Regions from separate parts of the Homo sapiens genome. Here all the other regions are linked to region 6. Evidence: fine-mapped expression QTL. A gene starts in region 6. Each other region holds a variant in brackets. All regions are shown on one strand. Distances are between the middles of the regions. Region 1 has its middle 54 kb from the start of EQTN. Region 2 overlaps TEK (TEK receptor tyrosine kinase). Region 3 overlaps TEK (TEK receptor tyrosine kinase). Region 4 overlaps TEK (TEK receptor tyrosine kinase). Region 5 overlaps IFT74 (intraflagellar transport 74). Region 6 holds the start of TEK (TEK receptor tyrosine kinase).

Region 1 (4,091 bases), 130 kb after region 6:
TTTATCACCACTAGGCCTGCCCTAAAACAGCTCCTGAAGGAAGCACTAAACATGGAAAGGAACAACCAGTACCAGCCACTGCAAAAACATGCCAAATCGTAAAGACCATCAAGGCTAGGAAGAAACTGCATCAACTAATGAGCAAAATAACCAGCTAACATCATAATGACAGGATCAAATTCACACATAACAATATTAACCTTAAATGTAAATGGGCTAAATGCTCCAAATAAAAGACACAGACTGGCAAATTGGATAAAGAGTCAAGACCCATCAGGGTGCTTTATTCAGGAAACCCATCTCACGTGCAGAGACACACATAGGCTCAAAATAAAGGGATGGAGGAAGATCTACCAAGCAAATGGAAAACAAAACAAGGCAGGGGTTGCAATCCTAGTCTCTGACAAAACAGACTTTAAACCAACAAAGATCAAAAGAGACAAAGAAGGCCATTACATAATGGTAAAGGGATCAATTCAACAAGAAGAGCTAACTATCCTAAATCTATATGCACCCAATACAGGAGCACCCAGTTTCATAAAGCAAATCCTTAGAGACCTACAAAGAGACTTAGACACCCACACAATAATAATGGGAGACTTTAACACCCCACTGTCAACACTAGACAGATCAACGAGACAGAAAGTTAACAAGGGTGTCCAGGAATTGAACTCAGCTCTGCACCAAGCAGACCTAATAGACATCTACAGGACTCTCCACCCCAAACCAACAGAATATACATTCTTTTCAGCACCACACCACACCTATTCCAAAATTGACCACATACTTGGAAGTAAAGCACTCCTCAGCAAATGTAAAAGAACAGAGATTATAACAAACTGTCTCTCAGACCACAGTGCAATCAAACTAGAACTCAGGATTAAGAAACTCACTCAAAACAGCTCAACTACATGGAAACTGAACAACCTGCTCCTGAATGACTACTGGGTACATAACGAAATGAAGGCAGAAATAAAGATGTTCTTTGAAACCAATGAGAACAAAGACACAACATACCAGAATCTCTGGGACACATTCAAAGCAGTGTGTAGAGGGAAATTTATAGCACTAAATGCCCACAAGAGAAAGCAGGAAAGATCTAAAATTGACACCCTAACACCACAATTAAAAGAACTAGAGAAGCAAGAGCAAACACATTCAAAAGCTAGCAGAAGGCAAGACATAACTAAAATCAGAGCAGAACTGAAGGAAATAGAGACACAAAAAAGCCTTCAAAAAAATCAATGAATCCAGGAGCTGGTTTTTTGAAAAGATCAACAAAATTGATAGACCGCTAGCAAGACTAATAAGGAAGAAAACAGAGAAGAATCAAATAGATGCAATAAAAAATGATAAAGGGGATATCACCACCAATCCCACAGAAATACAAACTACCATCAGAGACTACTATAAACACCTCTATGCAAATAAACTAGAAAATCTAGAAGAAATGGATAAATTCCTCGACACATACACCCTCCCAAGATTAAACCAGGAAGAAGTTGAATCTCTGAATAGACCAGTAACAGGCTCTGAAATTGAGGCAATAATTAATAGCTTACCAACCAAAAAAAGTCCAGGACCAGATGGATTCACAGCCGAATTCTACCAGAGGTACAAGGAGGAGCTGGTATCATTCCTTCTGAAACTATTCCAATCAACAGAAAAAGAGGGAATCCTCCCTGACTCATTTTATGAGGCCAGCATCATCCTGATACCAAAGCCTGGCAGAGACACAACAAAAAAAGAGAATTTTAGATCAATATCCCTGATGAACATTGATGCAAAAATCCTCAATATAATACTGGCAAACCGAATCCAGCAGCACATCAAAAAGCTTATCCAACATGATCAAGTGGGCTTCATCCCTGGGATGCAAGGCTGGTTCAACATAAGCAAATCAATAAACGTAATCCAGCATATAAACAGAACCAACGACAAAAACCATATGATTATCTCAATAGATGCAGAAAAGGCCTTTAACAAAATTCAACAACCCTTCATGCTGAAAACTCTCAATAAATTAGGTATTGAAGGGATGTATCTCAAAATAATAAGAGCTGTCTATGACAACCCCACAGCCTATATCTTACTGAATGGGCAAAAACTGGAAGCATTCCCTTTGAATACTGGCACAAGACAAGGATGCCCTCTCTCACCACTCCTATTCAACATAGTGTTGGAAGTTCTGGCCAGGGCAATCAGGCAGGAGAAAGAAATAAAGGGTATTCAGTTAGGAGAAGAGGAAGTCAAATTGTCCCTGTTTGCAGATGACATGATTGTATATCTAGAAAACCCCATTGTCTCAGCCCAAAATCTCCCTAAACTGA[T/C]AGGCAACTTCAGCAAAGTCTCAGTATACAAAATCAATGTGCAGAAATCACAAGCATTCTTATACACCAATAACACACAAACAGAGAGCCAAATCATGAGTGAACTCCCATTCACAATTCCTTCAAAGACAATAAAATACCTAGGAATCCAACTCAAAAGGGATGTGAAGGACCTCTTCAAGGAGAACTACAAACCACTGCTCAATGAAATAAAAGAGGATACAAATACATGGAAGAACAATTCCATGCTCATGGGTAGGAAGAATCAACAATGTGAAAATGGCCATAGTGCCCAAGGTAATTTATAGATTCAATGCCATCCCCATCAAGCTACCAATGACTTTCTTCACAGAATTGGAAAAAACTACTTTAAAGTTCATATGGAACCAAAAAAGAGCCCTCATTGCCAAGTCAATCCTAAGCCAAAAGAACAAAGCTGGAGGCATCACACTACCTGACTTCAAACTATACTACAAGGCTACAGTAACCAAAACAGCATGGTACTGTTACCAAAACAGAGATATAGACCAACGGAACAGAACAGAGCCCTCAGAAATAACGCCGCATATCTACAACCATCTGATCTTTGACAAACCTGACAAAAACAAGCAATGGGGAAACAATTCCCTATTTAATAAATGGTACTGGGAAAACTGGCTAGCCATATGTAGAAAGCTGAAACTGGATCCCTTCCTTACACCTTATACAAAAATTAATTCAAGATGGATTAAAGACTTAAATGTCAGACCTAAACCCATAAAAACCCTAGAAGGAAACCTAGGCAATACCATGCAGGACATAGGCATGGGCAAGGACTTCATGTCTAAAACACCAAAAGCAATGGCAACAAAAGCCAAAATTGACAAATGGGATCTAATTAAACTAAAGAGCTTCTGCACAGGAAAAGAAACTACCATTGGAGCGAACAGGCAACCTACAGAATGGGAGAAAATTTTTGCAATCTACTCATCTGACAAAGGGCTAATATCCAGAATCTACAATGAACTCAAACAAATTTACAAGAAAAAAAACAAACAACCCCATCCAAAAGTGGCCAAAGGATATGAACAGACACTTCTCAAAAGAAGACGTTATGCAGCCAAAAGACACATGAAAAAATGCTCATCATCACTGGCCATCAGAGAAATGCAAATCAAAACCACAATGAGATACCATCTCACACCAGTTAGAATGGCGATCATTAAAAAGTCAGGAAACAACAGGTGCTGGAGAGGATGTGGAGAAAAAGGAACACTTTTACACTGTTGGTGGGACTGTAAACTAGTTCAACCATTGTGGAAGTCAGTGTGGTGATTCCTCAGGGATCTAGAACTAGAAATACCATTTGACTCAGCCATCCCATTACTGGGTATATACCCAAAGAATTATAAATCATGCTGCTATAAAGACACATGCACATGTAAGTTTATTGAGGCACTATTCACAATAGCAAAGACTTGGAACCAACCCAAATGTCCAACAATGATAGACTGGATTAAGAAAATGTGGCACATATACACCATGGAATACTATGCAGCCATAAAACATGATGAGTTCATGTCCTTTGTAGGGACATGGATGAAGCTGGAAACCATCATTCTCAGCAAACTATAACAAGGACAAAAAACCAAACACCGCCTGTTCTCACTCATAGGTGGGAATTGAACAATGAGAACACATGGACACAGGAAGGAGAACATCACACACCGGGGCCTGTTGTGGGGTGGGGGCAGGGGGAGGGATAGCATTAGGAGATATATC
Region 2 (4,091 bases), 84 kb after region 6:
AAATCACAATTTTAAAAAGCAAAGAGCATTATCAGTGACCATGCTGCTTCAATTGGACTATTCTGTAAAAAGACCTGCCACTAACATGCTTGTAGGCAGCATGTCCTCCTCCGCCCATACCTTTGTCTTACTATGCCTATGATTTCCTTAAAATGACCCTCTATTCACTATATGGAGATAATTAAGAAAACTATGGAAAAAAAAAAAGAGAAGAGGAGGAGGGTTTTGGGCTGAATAACACTAGCTGACCTGGGTAGACCGAATAAAATGGTATTATTACTGAGTCCTTCACATACTATTGTAGATTCTATCAAAATTCAGAATTCCAGGGATGTCAGGCTGATTTGCTGAATTGCTGTTTCCAACATCAATGGCTAGGTCTTTTGCTGTCATATGGTGGTAATAATCCATCACCTTTGTCTACAAGTGGACATCCACAAAGTGGTCTTCTAAGAACTGTTAAACACATCCCAGTTTTTTTTCTTACCAAGTAGGAATTTATCATATGATAAGGCAGAAATTTATCTTTGCAGTATCCATGGAGAAACAGAGGCTGACTAAAGCAAATAGGTAAGGAGAAAAGAGACAGATACCATTTGTTTATGGGTGCTATTTTCAAGGACTTCAGAATGCTTCATTGTAATAGTATGACCATTGCAAATCAGTTTTCTGGTCATTTTGAGCAAACCTCCTAAGCATCTTTTTCTCTCGATAGCTTGATTGCAATCAGTGTACATACTTGAAAACAGTAGCAATTAAATTATTCTAATTGAGTATTCCCCCAATCTGGTATTCCATATAGATTTGTGAGGTTTTATTCTACAAATGAAAAGACAAAAGCACCAGAGCAGAAATGTGTAAGTGGCACAGAAATACACACTTTAATGTGTACATTGTAACCTGGAAACATTTCAAAAGCCTAATTTTCCTCATATTGGGAAGGATGAGGCCTTGAAGATGGAATTGCCTCTCTGTTTCACTAAGACGTAGTTTTGAAAACCTAAAATTAGTTCACATCGCAATAACAACAACCCCGGCTTAAGGAATGTAAGAGAATGCCAACTTAAGTTTCCTGGACGTTTTCTCTTCTCAGTGACAAATGAGATTGTTACACTCAACTATTTGGAACCTCGGACAGAATATGAACTCTGTGTGCAACTGGTCCGTCGTGGAGAGGGTGGGGAAGGGCATCCTGGACCTGTGAGACGCTTCACAACAGCTTCTATCGGTCAGTGGAAGCCAACAGGCATTTATTCATGAGCTGGGTGGGAGGGGGAGGAAGGGGAAAGAGGAAGGAAGACCAGGAAGGGTGGTGGTGGGTGAGTGGGTGGGTGGGGATGGAGGTGGCAGGAGTTCGCTTTTGAATGGGTGGGAAAGTGACAGGAAGGCTAGCAACTTCAAGCCAAACTGTTCCTTTATTTGGGTTGGACTCCTGGTCTGTCTCCCTGGGGGAGGAGGTCTGCAGCACTCTGTAGGGACAGAGAAGGAAGCAGATGAGCCTTCAGGAAGGCAGGGCCTCCCCTAGGAGCTGGGATTTACACAGCAGCAACTGTGCTGAGCTTCAGCTCCTGCATTTTATCACTGGCTTCCTGTTTCCATCTTAAGGGCCCAGACCAGGCTCTTGCCACAGGCATATTTTAGAAGTCCCAGTTTATTTATTTTCAAAAATAATTTCCAATTTTTCAAAGTAATTCATGGTCAGAGTCATGACATCAAATAGAATAAGAAGCTTTTATCTAAAGAACAGCATTCTCCTGCTCCACCCTCCACCTCCCAGTCCTGCTTCCTATAGGTAGCCACTTTCATCTCCTTAAGCTATTTCTTATATTTACCTCCCTTTTCTAAATCAGTGGTTCTCAAACCTAAGTGTCCATCAGAATCACTCAGAGAGTTTGTTAAAAGATGTTTCTGGGCCTCGTCCCCAGAGTTTCGGATTCAATGGTTTTGAGGTGAGGATGGGGCCGGGGTTCAAAAATTTGCATTTCTAGTAGGTTCCCAAGTGATGCTGCTGGTCCTGGGTCCACACGTTCTAGATAACATGTGTAAAATTACTTCTGGACTTCTCAGTGGTGTTTGGTATTGACTGGCCTTCTATTGCGTTAATTAACTCTGTGAAGCCTCCTTGATGCTAACCTGACCTCCAGCTTTCTGTTACCCAGGTACCCTCCATTGAAATACTGGAGTGATCTTTTGTAAGGTTCCATTCCTGGTTCTTTGAATTGTTCACTGTGTATAACCATTCTGTTACTCTCTCTTGGTCAGTACTTTATACTTTCAACTTCATATATATTTGATTTATATCACCTAGGAAAGTAAGAATTATCATCTTCCCTATTTTACAGATTGAAAAGTAGAGACTCAGAGTACTTAATAACAGTAAGATGCATCACCATACTAAATCTTCGGGCTTCATATCTTTGTCTTTTAGAGCCAGGATCTTGCTCTGTCACTCA[A/G]GCTGGAGAGTGCAGTGGTTTGATCAACACTCATTACAGCCTCTATCTCCTGGGCTCAAGTCATCCTCCCACCTCAGCTTCCTGAGTAGCTGGGACTACAGGCACACCACCACATCTGGCTACTTCAAAAAATTTTTTTTGTAGAGACGGGGTCTTGCTTTGTTGCCCAGGCTGGTCTTAAACTCCTGCCTCAAGCAGTCCCCCAGCCTTGGCCTCTCAAAGTGTTAGGATTACAGGGATGAGTCACCACTCCCAGTCCAGGCTCCATATCCTTTTGTTTCTCCAATTATTATTTCTACCTAGAATCCCAAAGGCACCAGCTTATTATCCCAGTTCACATATTTGCCTGTGTTTTACTCCATTTACTAAAAGTAGAAGGATATGTTATGATTGAGTGAAAAAACCAGGAAGAACATCCACTTTTCTTCTGCAGAGATTGTGCACCCTTAACAGAAACATCCTTCCTTCACACCACCCACCTAGTTTTTATGTTACTAGCAGCATCCTTAAAGAACCAAATGAGACTCAAAAGCTACTCTGAGACTTATAGAAGCATTACACACAAGTAAGAAATGGCTGCTTGGGGACCCACCTGGTTGTGAATATAAAAAATAAACCCAGAAACTATATAGAGAGGAAAAAGGGACCTCTACAACCATGACCCAAGGGATCCCTGATATGTCATCATGTTACTGCTAAAAGGCAAATGGTAGTTAATTCTCTCTCAAGTCACTGTTGGTGAGTCAAGAGGGGAAGAGCATAAACTGACTCAGATGGAAAGTATTTATGGAACAGAACATAAAACACTTCACAGCCCCACACTGTACTGTCTTCAGCCCTCAGAATGTGTTGCAGCCAGGAGGTCTCTCAGAATATTTCAAAGTAGTTCTCAGGGGTAGGCGGGAAGGGGATTATTGAAGGTTCTTCTTTTCCCATCATTTGAATTTTGCTGCTGTTTGCTTTTCATTTCGTCTGGCAGTTGCACTGTTTATGTGTGTTGATTGAGATGGTGAAGGCCAGGGAGTCCGGGAGGGGAAGGAAGAGAACACTTTCTGAACATAGTGCAGAAAGGGGCAGACAGGGAGGCGTATGGGGTAATCATGTTCCCAAAGGGCGGGAAAAGGGGAAATGACTATTTATTGAGTTACTCTTCTGTACCAGGCACAGGATTAGGAGGTGTAAATGTATTCTCCAAAATATCAACTCCCCATTCTCCTTTGTCATTGCAAACCTGCCTAAACCACTCTGGGTGGCTATTTTGGAGGTTAAACTTCAGAGGTTAACAAGAGGAGATGGCATCACCTCTCTCCATTTGCAAAGGTTACAGAGAAAGGGCCATCAGACCTTTTGCATAATGCCAAGAAAATGCATGCCTAGCTGCTGGTTCTCACTAGTCTGAGGGTAGTCAGAACCAGGCTGGTGGGACTTAATTCCCAGTAGATGGAAACAGACCCTTCCTCTCACCTCGAACCAAGAGTAAGAGCAGTGTTTCTCAACCTTTAAAAAAAAATGTATTGCTCATCCCCAGTGAGCTGTTTCAGATACGTTTATCCTAGTAGATCCTGCCTCCCGTGAAATTTTAATACCACAGATATGCTCTATATCTGTTTCTGTATTATGGTCCTCTGTAAACAATTG
Region 3 (4,091 bases), 120 kb after region 6:
TCTGCAACTATTCCAAACAATAGAAAAAGAGGGATCTTTCCTAACTCATTTTATGAGGTCAGCATCATCCTGTTACCCAAACCTGGCAGAGACACAACAAAAAAGAAAACTTCAGGCCAATATCCCTGATGAACATTGATGCGAAAATTCTCAATAAAATACTGGGAAACAGAATCCAGCAGCACATCAAAAAGCTTATCCACCATGATCAAGTCTGCTTCATCCTTGGGATGCAAGGCTGGTTCAACATATGCAAATCAATAAACATAATCCATCATCTAAACAGAACCAATGAAAAAAACCACATGTATCTCAATAGATGGAGAAAAGCCTTCAAGGAAATTCAACACCCCCTCAGGCTAAACACGCTCAGTAAACTAGGTATTGATGGAACGTATCTCAAAATATTAAGAGCTGTTTATGACAAACCCACAGCCAGTATCACACTGAATGGACAAAAGCTGGAAGCATTCCCTTTGAAAACCGGCATAAGACAAGGATGCCCTCTCTCGCCCCTCCTGTTCAACGTAGGATTGAAAGTTCTGGCCAGGGCAGTCAGGCAAGAGAAAGAAAGAAAGGGCATTCAAATAGGAAGAGAGGAAGTCAAACTGTCTCTGTCTGCAGATGACATGATTGTATTTCTAGAAAACCCCATTGTCTCAGCCCAAAATCTCTTTAAGCTGATAAGCAACTTCAGCAAAGTCTCAGGATACAAAATCAGTGTGCAAAAATCACAAGCATTCCTATACACCAATAGCAGACAAACAGAGAGCCAAACCATGAGTGAACTCTCATTCACAACTGCTACAAAGAGAATAAAATATCTAGGAATCCAACTTACAAGGGATGTGAAGGACCTCTTCAAGGAGAACTACAAACCACTGCTCAAGGAAATAAGAGAGGACACAAACAAATGGAAAAACATTCCATGCTCATGGACAGGAAGAATCAATATTGTGAAAATGGCCACACTGCCCAGTGTTATCCCCATCAAGCTACCATTGACTTTCTTCACAGAATTAGATAAAACTGCTTTAAATTTCATATGGAACCAAAAAAGAGCCTGCATAGCCAAGACAATCCTAAGCAAAAAGAACAAAACTGGAGGCATCAAGCTACCTGACTTCAAACTATACTACAAGGCTACAATAACCAAAACAGGATGGTACTGGTACTAAAACAGATATATAGACCAAAGGAACAAGACAGAGGCCTCAGGAATAACACCACACATCTACAACCATCTCATCTTTGACAAACCTGACAAAAACAAGCAATGGGGAAAGGATTCCCTATTTAATAAATGGCGTTGGGAAAACTGGCTAGCCATATGCAGAAAACTGAAATTGGACCCCTTCCTTACACCTTATAAAAAATTAACTCGAGATGGATTAAAGACAAACGTAAAATCTAAAACCATAAAAACCCTAGAAGAAAACCTGGGCAATACCATTCAGGACATAGGCATGGGCAAAGACTTCATGACTAAAACACCAAAAGCGATGGCAACAAAAGCCAAAATTGACAAATGGGATCTAATTAAACTAAAGACCTTCTGCACAGCAAAAGAAACCACCATCAGAGTGAACAGGCAACCTACAGAATGGGAGAAAATTTTTGCAATCTATCCTTCTGACAAAGGGCTAATATCCAGAATCTACAAAGCACTTCAACAAATTTACAAGAAAAAAACAACCCCATCAAAAAGTGGGCAAAGGATATGGACAGACACTTCTCAAAAGAAGATATTTATGCAGACAACAAACATGAAAAAAGCTCATCATCACTGGTCATTAGAGAAATGCATATCAAAACCACAATGAGATGCCATTTCACACCAGTTAGAATAGCAATCATTAAAAAGTCAGGAAATGACAGATGCTGGAGAGGATGTGGAGAAATAGGAATGCTTTTACACTGTTGGTGGGAGTGTAAATTAGCTCAACCATTGTGGAAGTCAGTGTGGCGATTCCTCAGGGATCTAGAATTAGAAATACCATTTGACCCAGCCATCCCATTACTGGGAATATACCCACAGGATTATAAATCATTCTACTATAAAGACACATGCACACGTATGTTTATTGCAGCACTGTTCACAATAGCAAAGACTTGGAACCAACCCAAATGCCCATCAATGATAAACTGGATAAAGAAAACGTGGCACATATACACCATGGAATACTATGCAGCCATAAGAAAGGATGAGTTCTTGTCCTTTGGACGGACATGGATGAAGCTGGAAACCAACATTCTCAGGAAACTAGCACAAGAACAGAAGACCAAACATTGCATGTTCTCACTCATAAGTTGGAGTTTAAGGATGAGAACACATGGACACAGGGAGGGGAATATCACACGCCTATCGGGGGGTGGGGGCTAGGGGAGGGATAGCATTAGGAGAAATACCTAATGTAGATGACAGGTTGATGGGTGCAGCAAACCACCATGGCACTTGTATACATATGTAACAAACCTGCATGTTCTCCACATGTATCCCAGAACTGA[A/G]AGTATAATAATAAAAAAATAAAGATACATTTTCTTGCCTAGAACCTTGCTTCTGCTAAGATTACTTTCAAAAGTAAGATTTATTCCAAGGGTAAGAATAATGAACTGTAGTGATACCAGCATTCCCAGAACTATCCGTGGTAGAAGCTAACTGGCATGTTTGAAGACTGCAAGGCTCTAGGTTGAGCAGATAATTTATTGTCTAAATGGAGCTACTTCTAAGAGTGAAGGAGGGTGTTAATCTCACTGGAGCAAGAAGCATACATACCATCCTGGAAAAACCTGGACATAGTTGACCATCACTAGACAGTCCCTAAAATTCCACCTTTTGAGATTCACTTCATAAGGGGTGAGAAGATTTTTTAGTCTTTAAGAAACTTATGTTAAAGTGTAAGCTGTTCTGGGATCTGTGACACCCTAAGCCAATGGTTGATAGCCTTCCATGCACATAAGGTTCCCCAGAGTCATTTGTTCAGCATGTGGGCTCTTGGTCCCCACTGTCAGTCATTGATTCTGTAAGTTTAGGGCAGGTTCCAGAATTCTGCATTTTAATAACAGAGTAGTTCTGAGCACAACTGAGTAAGCACTGTCTTAGGTCAGTGTTTCCCAAACTATGTTTTCACGTGTTGTGCAAGATATAAATACATGATGCAAGGGGAAAGGAGTTCTGCGGTCAATTACTTTGGAAACTTTGTGTTAAACCTGTTGTCTTAGTCATTTCCGGCTGCTGTAACAACATACCATAAACATGGTGGCTTATAAACAACAGAGATGTATTTCTCACAGTTCTGAAGGCTGGGAAATCCAAGATCAAAGCGCTAGCAGATTTGGTGGCCATGAGCCATTTCCTAGCTCATAGATGGCCATCTTTCTGCTGTGTCCTCACGTGGCACTAGGGGCAAAAGAGCTCTTTGAGGCCTTTTGTGTAAGAGCACGAATCCCATTCATGAGGGTTCTACCCTCATGACCTGATCACCTCCCAAAGGACCTACCTTCAAACACCATCACATGGTTTCAACACATGATTTTTGGGTGGCATGAACATTCAGTCCATAGCACCTGGTTAAACAGGCATTTTTTTGTTTTTAATGACAGTGCTTCTAAAAGTCCTGCCTCTTAAAGGGACTTTATGTGGGTGGCATTTTACAAGTTTGAGCATGGGCCCTTTAAGAGACACTAACATTTTGAAATATGCAGCATTCCAAGGCAAATGCTGCTCTAGACACATACCCAGTTCTTTCTAGATGATTGCAATAGCTGAGACCAAGGTCCTGCAGAAACAGTACCGAGGGTAGGAACTAAATCTATGAGGAGTTGAAATGAGACTGGCTTAGGGAGGTGGGAGTCCTCATAGAAACTTCCTAGGGGCTGTACTTTGGTTAAGCTTCATAACCATGCATTGGGTGGCTTCATTCTCTCCTCTCTTTTCCTGCCGTGCCTAGGACTGAAGCACAGTTATAGAATTAACCCTTTAATTCTTTGCTTTCGAAGGTATGATCTAATGAGACAATGCTGGCGGGAGAAGCCTTATGAGAGGCCATCATTTGCCCAGATATTGGTGTCCTTAAACAGAATGTTAGAGG
Region 4 (4,091 bases), 100 kb after region 6:
TTAAAAATAATTATAAGAAGCTTTCATGCGATAGTGCTTTGTTTTTATCCAGAATGCTTTCATGTACAATTACAATGGAGCTTTACAACTATCCTGTGTTGCACATGCATTTAAAGTTAAATTTATGTTATTAATTCAAATGTTTATTGAGTACTTTCTACTGTAATGCATGTAATTACTGGTGAGTGAGTAGGTAACAACAAAAATCCTCTATGGGTTTACCTCTGCATGCAGCATGGCCTTGTAGTTCTGAATCTCTGCTTAAACTTCACTTCTCGTGGAAAAGTTTGCTCCCACAAAAAGCTCCATGCAGTAATTATTTACAAACTTGACAGCCTCTTGTTGACTTTGCAGCACAAACACCAACAATAGAAAAGAGACTACTTCCATTTCCTCAATTTATTAAACTAAAAATACTGGTGCTTCAAACAATTTATCATTCTATGATCCAATAAGGGTGTAATTCTGAAAGCCAGATCATGTCCCTTAGGTTAAATAATGAAGTAATGACATTTATTTTTTGAGCTACTTCCTGAAAACAGTAATGAGCATGGCACAGGAGTGTAAATGAAAGTTACACACACACACACATACCACACACACACACACACCCTGCTGTCCTTGCTGATAGCACTCCCACAAACATGGTGAGTGTTCTTAAAACCCGCCTGACTTTCTGTACAAACCCTACAAATGACACAGTACAAAAGGGCAAGGATTCTCTGGATGCCCAGGGAAAGTGGTGTTATGACAGGAAGCCAAGTGGCCGTGGTGGACAGACTAAACCAGTTTTCTGGAAAAAGGCTAAAACTACAAAGAAGACTGTGCTGAGGCTTTAGTGTTGACCCCACTGCAGATCTAAGAGAATGCTGGCTCTTAAGGGATCCAGGCACTTTGCACTAGGAGGAGATAAGAAGAGAAATGGCCAGTTGATCCAGTTCTAAGTTTCAGCTTTTGTTTTATTCTGAGGACAATAAAATCTTGAGGTTACGTTTACTTCATCTGGTTGCAGTTGGTCTTTAGGGAGAGAATAAACCATGATATTAATGCAGCTTCCTTCTTGGGAAAAAAAACCACAACAACAAAAATATATCCCTTAAAATTTTGCTTCGTCATCACATTAGCACATAGCTGGCTCTTAAAATTTTAAGATAGGCCGGGCGTGGTGGCTCACGCCTATAATCCCAGCACTTTGGGAGGCCGAGGCAGGCAGATCACAAGGTCAAGATGTCGAGACCATCCTGGCCAACCAACATGGTGAAACCCTGTCTCTACTAAAAATACAAAAAATTAACTGGGCCTAGTGGCGCATGCCTGTAGTCCCAGCTACTCGGGATGCTGAGGCAGGAGAATCGCTTGAACCTGGGAGGCGGAGGTTGCAGTGAGCCGAGATCGCACCACTGCACTTCAGCCCAGGCGACAGAGAGAGACTCAGTTTAAAAAAAAATATATATATATATGAATATATATGTATGAATATATGTATGTGTATATATATATATGAATATATGTATATATATGAATATATGTGTATATATATGAATATATGTGCATATATATGTATTTAAGGTAAATTACCTTTATCTTTAT[TAATA/T]AATACATATTTAAATTATTTTAAAATAATTCAGTAAAGATGTGAGAAAGCACATGTATACCATAATTTAGGTCTAACTTTCATTATAGTGCAACAGGTTTCAATATTACTTTTCTTTTTTGCTAGAATTTCAATTTCTTAGAAGATCTTTCAAGCTTTTTTTTTTTTTTTTTTTTTTGAGATAGATAGATAGATAGATAGGGTCTCACTCTGTTGCCCAGTCTGGAGTGCAGTAGCACGATGTCAGCCCACTGCAACCTCCCCATCCCTGGGCTCAAGCAGTCTTCCCACTTCAGCCTAAGTACTCCCAAGTAGCTGGGACTACAGGGATGCACCACCATGCTTGGCTAATTTTTATTTTATTTTTATTTTTTGTAGAGATTAGGTCTCAGTATACTGCCCAAGCTGGTCTCAAACTCCTGGGCTCAAGCAATCCATCTGCCTTGGCCTCCCAGAGTGCCGGGATTACAAGTGTGAGCCACTGCACTGGGCTTCAAGTTCTAATTCATACATCATTTTAAAAACATGGTTTGCCCAAAAAATTCTTCTTTAAAAAAAACCAGTAAAATAACTTTAACTTTACATTTTTAGTAGGTATAAATGTCGATGTTTTTAGCAAGTAAATTCCCTTTAAAAAAATTTTCGCAAGGGGATAATTTATTTTTTAAAAATTCCAAGAAAACAAAAGTAACAAAACTGGGCAAATAACGTTTTATTAAAAAAAAAAAGAGAGAGAGAAATGATGTGGAACAAAAAAGTGACAATGAACCATAAGTTTTTCTAGGAACTATTGTTTTATTTTTTCCTAAAAGCTTGAGTTTTCTGGTATCTTGAAGCAAAATGCAATCTTTGAAACTAACCTCTGGTGGCCAGAGACCCAATCAGCAATATGGTGACTTAGGATGGGTTTTGAGGAGGAGTAGAAGGCAGGAGAGACAATTACCTGTTGTGGCTCCTTCCACATGGATATTTAATTGTTGAAAAATAATAACAACCTCAGGAATAGCTAGAGGCAGACTAGAATAACATGCCTGGCTCATGTTACTAAGCTCCTTGATCAAAATGGAATGCAAATGAAAAGGTGACGTGAAGAACGTGTCTGAGATCTGGAAGAGCATGCTTTGACTCACTCTACTGTTATTACTGAGTGGGTAAAAGCATTTCAGGAAGCCCTCTGTGTGAGTGCAGGTTTGGTAGGAATGGAGAGGGGGTGGGAAGGAGCAAAACCAAGCGTTGCAGCCTGGCCCCTTTTGAGTATTGCAGGAGGGTGTCACCCGTCTTCCTCCTGTCCCCCAGTGCTCCCTGGGTGGTGTTGCTAGATGTGTTTTTTAGACAAAATGGAGTTTATAGGCAATTTCCACAGCACATCTCTTAAATGTCATAGCTGTTCAGGGCCACTGATGAGTCGATGCTCTCTTCCTTCCCTCCAGGCTACTTGTACCTGGCCATTGAGTACGCGCCCCATGGAAACCTTCTGGACTTCCTTCGCAAGAGCCGTGTGCTGGAGACGGACCCAGCATTTGCCATTGCCAATAGCACCGCGTCCACACTGTCCTCCCAGCAGCTCCTTCACTTCGCTGCCGACGTGGCCCGGGGCATGGACTACTTGAGCCAAAAACAGGTTTGTCCGGAGGACTTCGCTTTGGATATCTTTCCTGTGGAGTTCCCTCTAAAGTCAGTTTCAATATGTTTGTAGGGTCTGTCAACCTCTCTTCTTTAACTCCTTCTTAAAATCTCCCTCATTTTAATCTCTCTGTGAATAGTCCATCTATTTAAAGAAAAATTAGTACTGACAATATGTTTATCTAGCAATTTTCATAATTATGAAAATTGTATAATTTTCTTCTATCTAATTTCATATATGCAAATTTTATAATTTTCCTAATACGTAGCGAGGTACCTTAAGCTCTCTTAGCCTGGTTTGCCTCTAAATAATGTGTAATAACAGAGACACACTACATTACAGCTGGAGGATTTAACAACCTGTGTTTTTTATTTGTTCGTTTTCTGAAATTCTTCTGCCAAGATGTGGTGTGTCATTTGGCAGAATCCATTACCAGGGAATTTTGGAGGGGAACTTTAAGGGAACTGGATTGTGACTGTTTAAAATCCTTTTTTATACTATTGTTTTCTTTCCTGTTCCCCAAAGTTTTCAGCCCTGGGGCTTTCATTAGGCTGAAAATACATAATGTTTTCAAAAATTTCAGTTTATCCACAGGGATCTGGCTGCCAGAAACATTTTAGTTGGTGAAAACTATGTGGCAAAAATAGCAGATTTTGGATTGTCCCGAGGTCAAGAGGTGTATGTGAAAAAGACAATGGTAAGTGCCAGACACAGACACTGATCGCATCCTTTCCGAGGTACTCCCCTGTCTCCTGATGTTGCTTCTGAGACTGTCAGTGCTCTGTGGTGACTGAAGCATCTGACTGTATGTCCCAGTAGATACTGTGTGCCCTGGGAAACATTCTTTCTAAATGTTGGTTCCTAACATGATTG
Region 5 (4,091 bases), 54 kb before region 6:
GTAATCGACTTCTTAGGGAATCAATAATGTAAGAAAAAGGTTGAGAAACACTGGTGTACTGCATGGGCAAAGAGGCAAGGGATTTATGAGCAATATTTTTTATTTATATTTTTGGAAAGGAAACTCCAGAGAGTAAACAAATGTGCTGATGACAGACTATCTTAGAAACACTTCCCCGGGTCAAAGTGGTTCCTTCTGAGATTTTGCTCCTATGTACACACTGCTTGGTAAACTTTGCAACTTCACGGCATATCAGAAGGAACTAGACTGCATCCTCTTCCTGTCTCTTCCCTTGGAGTAGCATTTAGCTTTTCATTGCGGACCTGTTGTTAAAGGAAGATAAACTTTACCCTATACCAGCCATTTTCTCCTTTTATCAAGAAAAATCAATTTGTATGGTTCTTAAATGTATTTCCCTAGTATATATTCAAATTAAACTTGCAGTTAGATTTATATCAGTGTTTACTCCAAATAGTCAAAATATCTACAGGCTAAAAACAGTTCCTATTTCGAGCATTAAAATAGCATAAGCCTTAGTCACTTGTTCAGCTCTTTGATTCTCATAACTATTTCTAACCGTGGTAGAGATAAGAATCCAACAAAACAAAACTCTTTGCAACAACATTTAAGTTTTGCTATATACATATTTGTATTTACGTGTACATACACATATATATTTTTAAATAGTGTATGTCGCTGTGGTTGACTTTTAAAACTCTTAAAGGGATAAAAGGAAACATTCAAGAAATACTGGCTTAATTATACTAACTTTAAAAATTTTGGTTGGATAACAGCCTGTTTTCTCAAATCAGTGACTTTCGAAGCATTGTTTTTTACTCTTCAAATTCATTCATATTCATTTACTATTCAGTATGCTGAACTTGTTACTGGCTCAAAGGTACTAGACTTTCTTACCTCTAGACTTTGCACATGCTGATTGTTTTTGCTGGAACACTTTTACCTTCCTCTTTGTGTGATATTCATAAACCTTAAGCCTTTAATTGAAAGGCATATCTTTAGAGAGCTCTCTTCATCCCTGCTACATGCTTTTATGGCACCCTGTGCTACTCTTTTCATATTTATCCAGTTTATTGTAAATACTTATTTAATTGCCTGCTTCTACCTCTAAAATACAGCTCCCTGAGTGAAAACCATGTCTCTGTTGATTGCTATTATATCCTCAGCACCTGGCACATAGTAGATGCTTGATATTTTTGAATGGAAGAATGAGACACACACAGGTATCCTCATTATTCATATATTTCATATTGTGAATTTGCCCTCTCACTAAAGTTACTTTGTACCCCCCAAATCAATCCTTGCAGCATTTTCATGATCATTTGTGGGCATGTGCAGACTCGTGAAAAATTTCAACAGCCTGACATGCACATTGCCAACAGAAGTTGAAAAAGGCAACACTCTGCCTTCTTATGTCAGTTCTCATACTATAAAGAGGTTTCCTTTTTGCAGTATATTTAGTGGCATGTTTTTTGCATTTTTGTGCTTTCTGTTGGTGATCATGCCATTTAAAATGGCCCCAAGCAAAGTGCTGATGTGCTAAGTGTTCCTAAGGCACATCATAGCCTTATGGAGAAAATGTGTGATAGGTAAACTTAATTCAGGCATAAGTTACAGTGCTGTTGGCTGTGAGTTCAATGTTAGTGAATCTACAACCTATAGTAAATAAAATGTCTTTAAACAAACATAAAGCAAGATTATGTATTGGCTAATTGACTAAAATGTGACTAAAGGCTCACAGGAACTTAACTCTGTATTTCCTTTGGGAGCAATAGTTCAATATTTGCTAACTCATTGTTCACAATAACTTCATAGGACATAACTACCACAGATAGTAAGAGTTGATTATGTGTGCAATTATAAAATTGTGCTCA[A/AAT]ATATATATATAATGTTTTATAACTTGGTTTTTTCCCTACATAACTGTGTCATGCTTCTGTTAAAAATAATGTGTCTTTATCTCATAATATAGATTATATTACTAAGCAAGAAAAAAACTTAAATGTTTGTTAGCATGGAGACAGCTGTGGCTAATAGACATCAGGTTACCTTGATTCCCTAATATATTGGTTACCTGAAATTGGTTATTGAGGGGATGAGTATTTTTTTTTCTTAGTTTATATTATCTCACTGGTTACAGTGAACATATATTTCTTTTACAGATATTCTTAAAAAACATGATTTTTAATAGTTGCATTACATTTCCTTATGTGAAAGGAATAAAATTTTGATTAATTATCACCTTAAATTCTTATGTTTCAGACATTCAACGTCTGCAGTTGGATCTGCAGAAAATGGAGCTTCTAGAAAGTAAGATGACTGAAGAACAGCATTCTCTAAAAAGCAAAATTAAGCAAATGACAACTGATCTGGAGATATATAATGATTTGCCAGCTTTAAAATCATCAGGTGAAGAAAAGATAAAGGTAAATGTTAACCAAGTCTTACAGAATTACAATTCAGATTGTTTTTTTCTTGATCAAATGTAATATATTTGTGGTTTATAGGATTTATTATTTTAAGTTGATTATTTTATATATATAAGTGAGAAAAAATAAAAATGTTTACATATGTAGTTGGAATTTAGAGTGACTTAAAGTTTTAAAGAAAAGCAAAAATTGAAAAGCAAGGTATAAGCTGCTACTTAATACAGAGCATTTCAGCAGATGTGAGCTTTGTTAAATGCAGTTTAGATTATGACTCTATCCTACCTGAAACTTGTCAGTGGCTTTCCATTGCCATTTACATTAATTTAGACTTAATTTGGTAGGGTCGGGAGAGATATGGCAGCATTAATAGAGTTATTAATACAGATAATGTTAACATAGCTTATAGTTCAAAGGATATTTTTACAAACGGGTTTTAGAGTAGTTATAGCCTTGATATAATTTTACCAGAATATAGTTATTGAAATTAAGTTAAATATGATTTATATTGGCTTACTACATATTTTCTATAACCTGTCACTTCTATTTGGATCTTTCTAGAAATTACATCAGGAGAGAATGATATTATCAACCCACAGAAATGCCTTTAAGAAAATAATGGAGAAGCAAAACATAGAGTATGAGGCACTAAAAACACAATTGCAAGAAAATGAGACACATTCTCAGGTAAAAAATGTTTTAAATGACTTTGAAATTGTCTTAGTCTATATTTTCACCCCAAAACAATCAATTTTTTATTTTAAAATTTGCTTTATATACCTTCTAGATTTTCTGACTTTTAAGACAGCCAGATTCTGTACAGTCTTCATTCAGAATGAATGGACTCCTGCTTTCTTACCTTCCATAAACCTATATTGAAAGCCAACTCTGTTAGATACTGTCTTGGGCACAACTGTTAAGATATATGGGGTAGTATATTTTAAAAATTTTGGAAGTGAAACATTACTAATACAGAAACTAAAAATCCATAAAATCACAAATAAAATAAATTCTAATGATTAGTACCCCACCACCCAGAAGAGAGAATGCTTATTGTTGCTTTAGTGTGGGTTCTTTTAGTCAATGGATAGATAGATAGATAGATAGATAGATAGATAGATAGATAGATAGATATGTGTATACACATATTTATGCATATACTTAGGTACACATTTATTTCTATGCATTTATAGAAATTGTGCCATATTGTACATATCATTTAGGAGCTTGTTTTTCATGATTAACTATACATCATAAGTACTTTCCCTTGTCAATATATATATTGACTTTTAAAAAATATTAATAGCTTAATGATATTCTAGTGCATGGATGTCGCATAATATATTGAACCAATTCCCTTTCGTTGGATATTTAGGTAATTTCTAGTTTTAAAACCATTGAAATAATGCTATAAAGAGCAATCCAGGTATCCTTGAACTTCTTAATTCATATCTCCAATTATTTACATAGGATGCGTAGATATATATACCTGCAGCCCCCTTTTCATATCACTCATCTTGCTGATAATTACTTGAACAGTGTGTGAGGTCTAGATTGAGAGCTCTGACGGGACAGAGACAATGTCTGTCTCGTTTACTTTATTCCTTGCCCTGTGGTATTGGTTGGCACATAGTAGGTACTCAGCAATTATT
Region 6 (4,091 bases):
TTCTCAGTGTCACCAAACTATTCTTATCTGTCAAAGTTTCATTTCAAATACTTCTGTAAGGTCTAGGTGTACCCTGCTGGTGTTTGTGATGTCCTACATTACTCTTGATCTACTTTTCAACTATGAAACAAGGGAAAAATTGGAGGTCCAGAGCTCAGGATTCAGATATTATTACCTCTGCTACTCACAGCAGAGCAAGTAACTTAGCCTGTGTGGAACTTCATTTTTCTTTCTTTTTTTTCTTTTTTTTTTTTTTTTTTTTAGACAGAGTCTTGCTCTGTCACCCAGGCTGGAGTGCAGTGGCACGATCTCGGCTCACTGCAACCTCTGCCTCCCAGGTTCAAACAATTCTCCTGCCTCAGCCTCCAGAGTAGCTGGGGTTACAGGTGCACGCCAGCAAGCACAGCTAAATTTTGTATTTTTAGTAGAGATGGGGTTTTGCCATGTTGGCCAGGCTGGTCTCAAACTCCTGACCTCAGGTGATCCACTCCCAAAGTGCTGGGATTATAGGCGTGAGCCACTGTGCCAGGCCCACTGTTTTTGTTTTTTTTTTTCGTGATGACAAATTTAAAGTCATCTCATAGGAATAGAAAATAGCTTTTTAGTAGAAGCTCTTGGAATTTAAATTGAGACTGAATGGAAAGATGAAAGAAAATAAACTTATTAACATTTAATGAGAACCTTCAAAGAACTAGGCATAGTACCAAATGGTTTTATATTTTTAAACCTCATTTATTCCTCTCAAAACACCTGGGAAGGAGATATTTTTGCCATTTCACAGCTGTTGAAACTGAGGCTCAAAAAGACTAAGTAACTTTTCTCAGCTACACATGTGGCTGAGCCAGTATTTGAACCCAGTTCTGTTTGCAGACAGAACCTGGGCTTTTTCACACCTGCAAACTGGAAACATTAATTGGTTCTTAAGATCATCATCGATGTGATAAAACCTGGGACAGAAATTAGTCAAGACTAGCTGCATCTGCCTTTTCCTCTGGTGGGTAGGAAAAGGAGGAGTATAATGATTTCCTCAGGCATGAAGGTCGATGATGAGCAAAGTGTATACTCTCTAATCTAATGTCATAATTCATATTGTGGAGTAATTATCTGGATAAGTGTAGGGTCTCTGACCTCATTCTAGATATTGTACATTCCATGGCTATTTTCATTTTGGTCCATGAACTCTCTTTGCTCTCATGAGCACCATTTTTATCCCAATCTAATCCTGTATGTTTGTGTTTTTACACAGATTAGTTTTTAAATGTTATATATAATTTGCTTCTGAAACACCATTGCTCAATGACTACCAAATCTTTCTCATTACCAAAATCCTTCTATGCCAACTTCTTCAAGAAATTTGATCACCTTTAGATGAATTGTTAATGAAAATTAAAGCTATAGCCGGCAACATGGGTATCTTTGGGCTAATGGCCAACCAACAGGCCATCTGTGTGAAAGAAAACAGGCTAACAATTTTGGACTCTGGTCTCTTGGGGCTACATTGAGCATTGACCTCACCGGTGCTCACTGAAATTAATTGCTTTTCAGGTTGTATTTTCTCATCACGGAAACCTTCTTCTCCCAATTCAAACCATGTGGGTTAAAATGAGAAAACAAAAGCCAAAACGGCTTCCCACACCCAAAAGCTCCTTCTGTCAGAGATCCCAGTAGCCCCGGGAGAGCTGTTAGAAGTCTGAGAAGGATTGGTCATCATCGCATACCATACATAGGTGGAGGGCTTGTTATTCTCAGTTTCCCGCCTATGAGAGGATACCCCTATTGTTTCTGAAAATGCTGACCGGGACCCACACTTCCAACAAAAATTCCTCTGCCCCTACAGCAGCAGCAAAAGCAGCAGCAGAAGCAACAGCAACAGATAAGTGTTTTGATGAATTGCGAGATGGATAGGGCTTGAGTGCCCCCAGCCCTGCTGATACCAAATGCCTTTAAGATACAGCCTTTCCCATCCTAATCTACAAAGGAAACAGGAAAAAGGAACTTAAAACTCCCTGTGCTCAGACAGAAATGAGACTGTTACAGCCTGCTTCTGTGCTGTTCCTTCTTGCCTCTAACTTGTAAACAAGACGTAGTAGGACGATGCTAATGGAAAGTCACAAACCGCTGGGTTTTTGAAAGGATCCTTGGGACCTCATGCACATTTGTGGAAACTGGATGGAGAGATTTGGGGAAGCATGGACTCTTTAGCCAGCTTAGTTCTCTGTGGAGTCAGCTTGCTCCTTTCTGGTAAGGTTTGGCTTTATTTTTTTTAATTTAGTATTTTAAAAAACAGAGTTAGTGATTTCTGGGTGCTCTCCCCAAATCTCATCAGTGCTGATGAACAAGGGGTGGCTGTAGCAAAGGCACCATTTCTCTGTGAGTCTCCAGTCAATATGTGTGGAAGGATTGAAATGCAAAGGCTCTGTGGCATGAACTGATTTTGCTAGTTTGTCTTCTGGGTGATTGGCCCCTGTGTTAGAAACTCTTTGAGGACCGATTAAATCATCTTATTTGAAGAGATCCCCTTACTATCATGCATTATTTTCCTGCTCCTCATTCTGGAGTGTTTTTCTTATTGATTTTTTTTTTAAAGAACAAACCGGTTTTACCTGCTTTAAAGAAAATCTTCAGTAAAAAATGAAATTCATGCTGAGAAATACAGGGGCCCAATTAAGGCAGTGTATAGATTGTCACTGTTAAAAGGGAACAAAGATGCTTTTCTGTAAAAAGATTTTATATCTACATCCTATTTTAAGCAAAGCAATGAAATTGTAGGCTTTTTTTTTTTTCTTGTAGTTAGGGTCAGGGAGATTGGGGCTATTAGAATTTTTGTTTTATTTTAAAAAATGTTTGCCATGTAGTAATTCATAAAGGGTTTACTGGCCCAATGAAACAAAAATTTAGGCAGTTACCAAAATCTTTAACACAGGAGAGTATATGAAGCCTGTTGTAGAGTGAAGGAGTGGTTGGCCAGTGTGTTGGGTTCAGCGTGTTTATTGCTTAGATACTCCAGATAGTGGTGTGCCTCTGTAGCTCACTCAGCCTATGTGACATAGGTAGAAGGCAGTATCCAAACCTGAACTACATATCACAAATACATTTATCATTGCCATCAGTCTCTCCCCTTCGGTTTGAAAACATTCTAATTTTAATAACGAAAATCGAATTGATATTGGAGATGAATTTGGGAAAATTCACTAAACTTCATGGATATAGGGCATATTAATATAATTTGATTCGAGTATACATAAGTATCTGCTATATTTTCTAGGTGTTTGAACTATTTTATTAAATATTCAAAAAACAAATCCAATGAAATAACTGAGTTGAATACAGTTTGTTTTATAGCTCTCAACAACCAATATTTTGAGAATTTAATAATATTCTTTAAGAATGTGTAACACAAGTTGCTAAAAATTAAAAGATTTTAGGTGGCTTCAGTATTTATGTGGAAATTGTTTAAATAATGTTGACTTCTCCAATAATATGTACTTCAAATAATTATCATGATTCCATTTTTGATTTTTTTTTTTCTGAGTGCCATTATTTACCAGTGACATGAAATCTGGAACTTACTCTATACCAGGGATTATAGTGATGTGAAGCCCAGGTGTCTATAGTTTCTCTGAGGTACTTTGTAGGTTAATACACACACAACTGTTTTCATTCACTTTTTTTACTCCTAAAGCAACTGTGTTATAGCACTTTGCAATACAGGCTTAGAAGAATTGTCATAAAATCAAACAAAAAGGTATGTAGCCAAAATACTTGTTCCATGTCTAGACCTCAGATCCCTGGAAAAAACAGCACTGCCTTTAAAAGGCAGAGGACCAAGGAGAGGAAGTAGGTTCATGTTCTTGTTAGGAAGGGTGACACTAGCAAGGTTAGTTTCTGAGGTAGGTCTGTTGTCTTGATCGTAGCTTGCATTCCTAGTCTAAGCCTCCATGAGCATGACTGCTCAAGGCTTGATAATTGCAACAAGAATCCAGCTAGATAATGTCCACAGCCATAGGAGCCCGTTCCTCTAGTCAAACTCCTGGTAGACTAAAGCAGTGGAGCAAGGGGCTTATGGCTTAAAGGTTTATCTCTCTAGTCCA

What was found. PIP is the estimated chance that this variant, and not a neighbour inherited with it, causes the effect.
Region 1: its variant is fine-mapped to the expression of TEK in whole blood (INTERVAL, PIP above 0.99).
Region 2: its variant is fine-mapped to the expression of TEK in whole blood (INTERVAL, PIP above 0.99). The same link has a PIP of 0.9 or more in neutrophils.
Region 3: its variant is fine-mapped to the expression of TEK in whole blood (TOPMed, PIP 0.97).
Region 4: its variant is fine-mapped to the expression of TEK in whole blood (INTERVAL, PIP above 0.99).
Region 5: its variant is fine-mapped to the expression of TEK in whole blood (TOPMed, PIP 0.98).

The regions. Positions count from the first base shown.
Region 1 is chr9:27,241,315-27,245,405 of GRCh38, forward strand. No RefSeq gene overlaps it. Among named protein-coding and RNA genes, the nearest start is that of EQTN, 54 kb to the right of the region's middle. The variant T/C (reference allele first, on the strand shown) is at 2,331.
Region 2 is chr9:27,191,396-27,195,486 of GRCh38, forward strand. It overlaps TEK (TEK receptor tyrosine kinase), which reads left to right. Exons shown (of 23, transcript NM_000459.5): 11 at 1,094-1,228. Among named protein-coding and RNA genes, the nearest start is that of TEK, 84 kb to the left of the region's middle. The variant A/G (reference allele first, on the strand shown) is at 2,454.
Region 3 is chr9:27,224,207-27,228,297 of GRCh38, forward strand. It overlaps TEK (TEK receptor tyrosine kinase), which reads left to right. Exons shown (of 23, transcript NM_000459.5): 22 at 4,000-4,091. Among named protein-coding and RNA genes, the nearest start is that of EQTN, 71 kb to the right of the region's middle. The variant A/G (reference allele first, on the strand shown) is at 2,509.
Region 4 is chr9:27,209,683-27,213,773 of GRCh38, forward strand. It overlaps TEK (TEK receptor tyrosine kinase), which reads left to right. Exons shown (of 23, transcript NM_000459.5): 17 at 3,025-3,215; 18 at 3,802-3,915. It also overlaps the pseudogene RPL36AP34. Among named protein-coding and RNA genes, the nearest start is that of EQTN, 85 kb to the right of the region's middle. The variant TAATA/T (reference allele first, on the strand shown) is at 1,591.
Region 5 is chr9:27,053,334-27,057,424 of GRCh38, forward strand. It overlaps IFT74 (intraflagellar transport 74), which reads left to right. Exons shown (of 20, transcript NM_025103.4): 17 at 2,276-2,439; 18 at 3,001-3,126. Among named protein-coding and RNA genes, the nearest start is that of LRRC19, 50 kb to the left of the region's middle. The variant A/AAT (reference allele first, on the strand shown) is at 1,893.
Region 6 is chr9:27,107,402-27,111,492 of GRCh38, forward strand. TEK (TEK receptor tyrosine kinase) reads left to right here and starts at 1,824. Exons shown (of 23, transcript NM_000459.5): 1 at 1,824-2,241. The coding sequence starts at 2,190.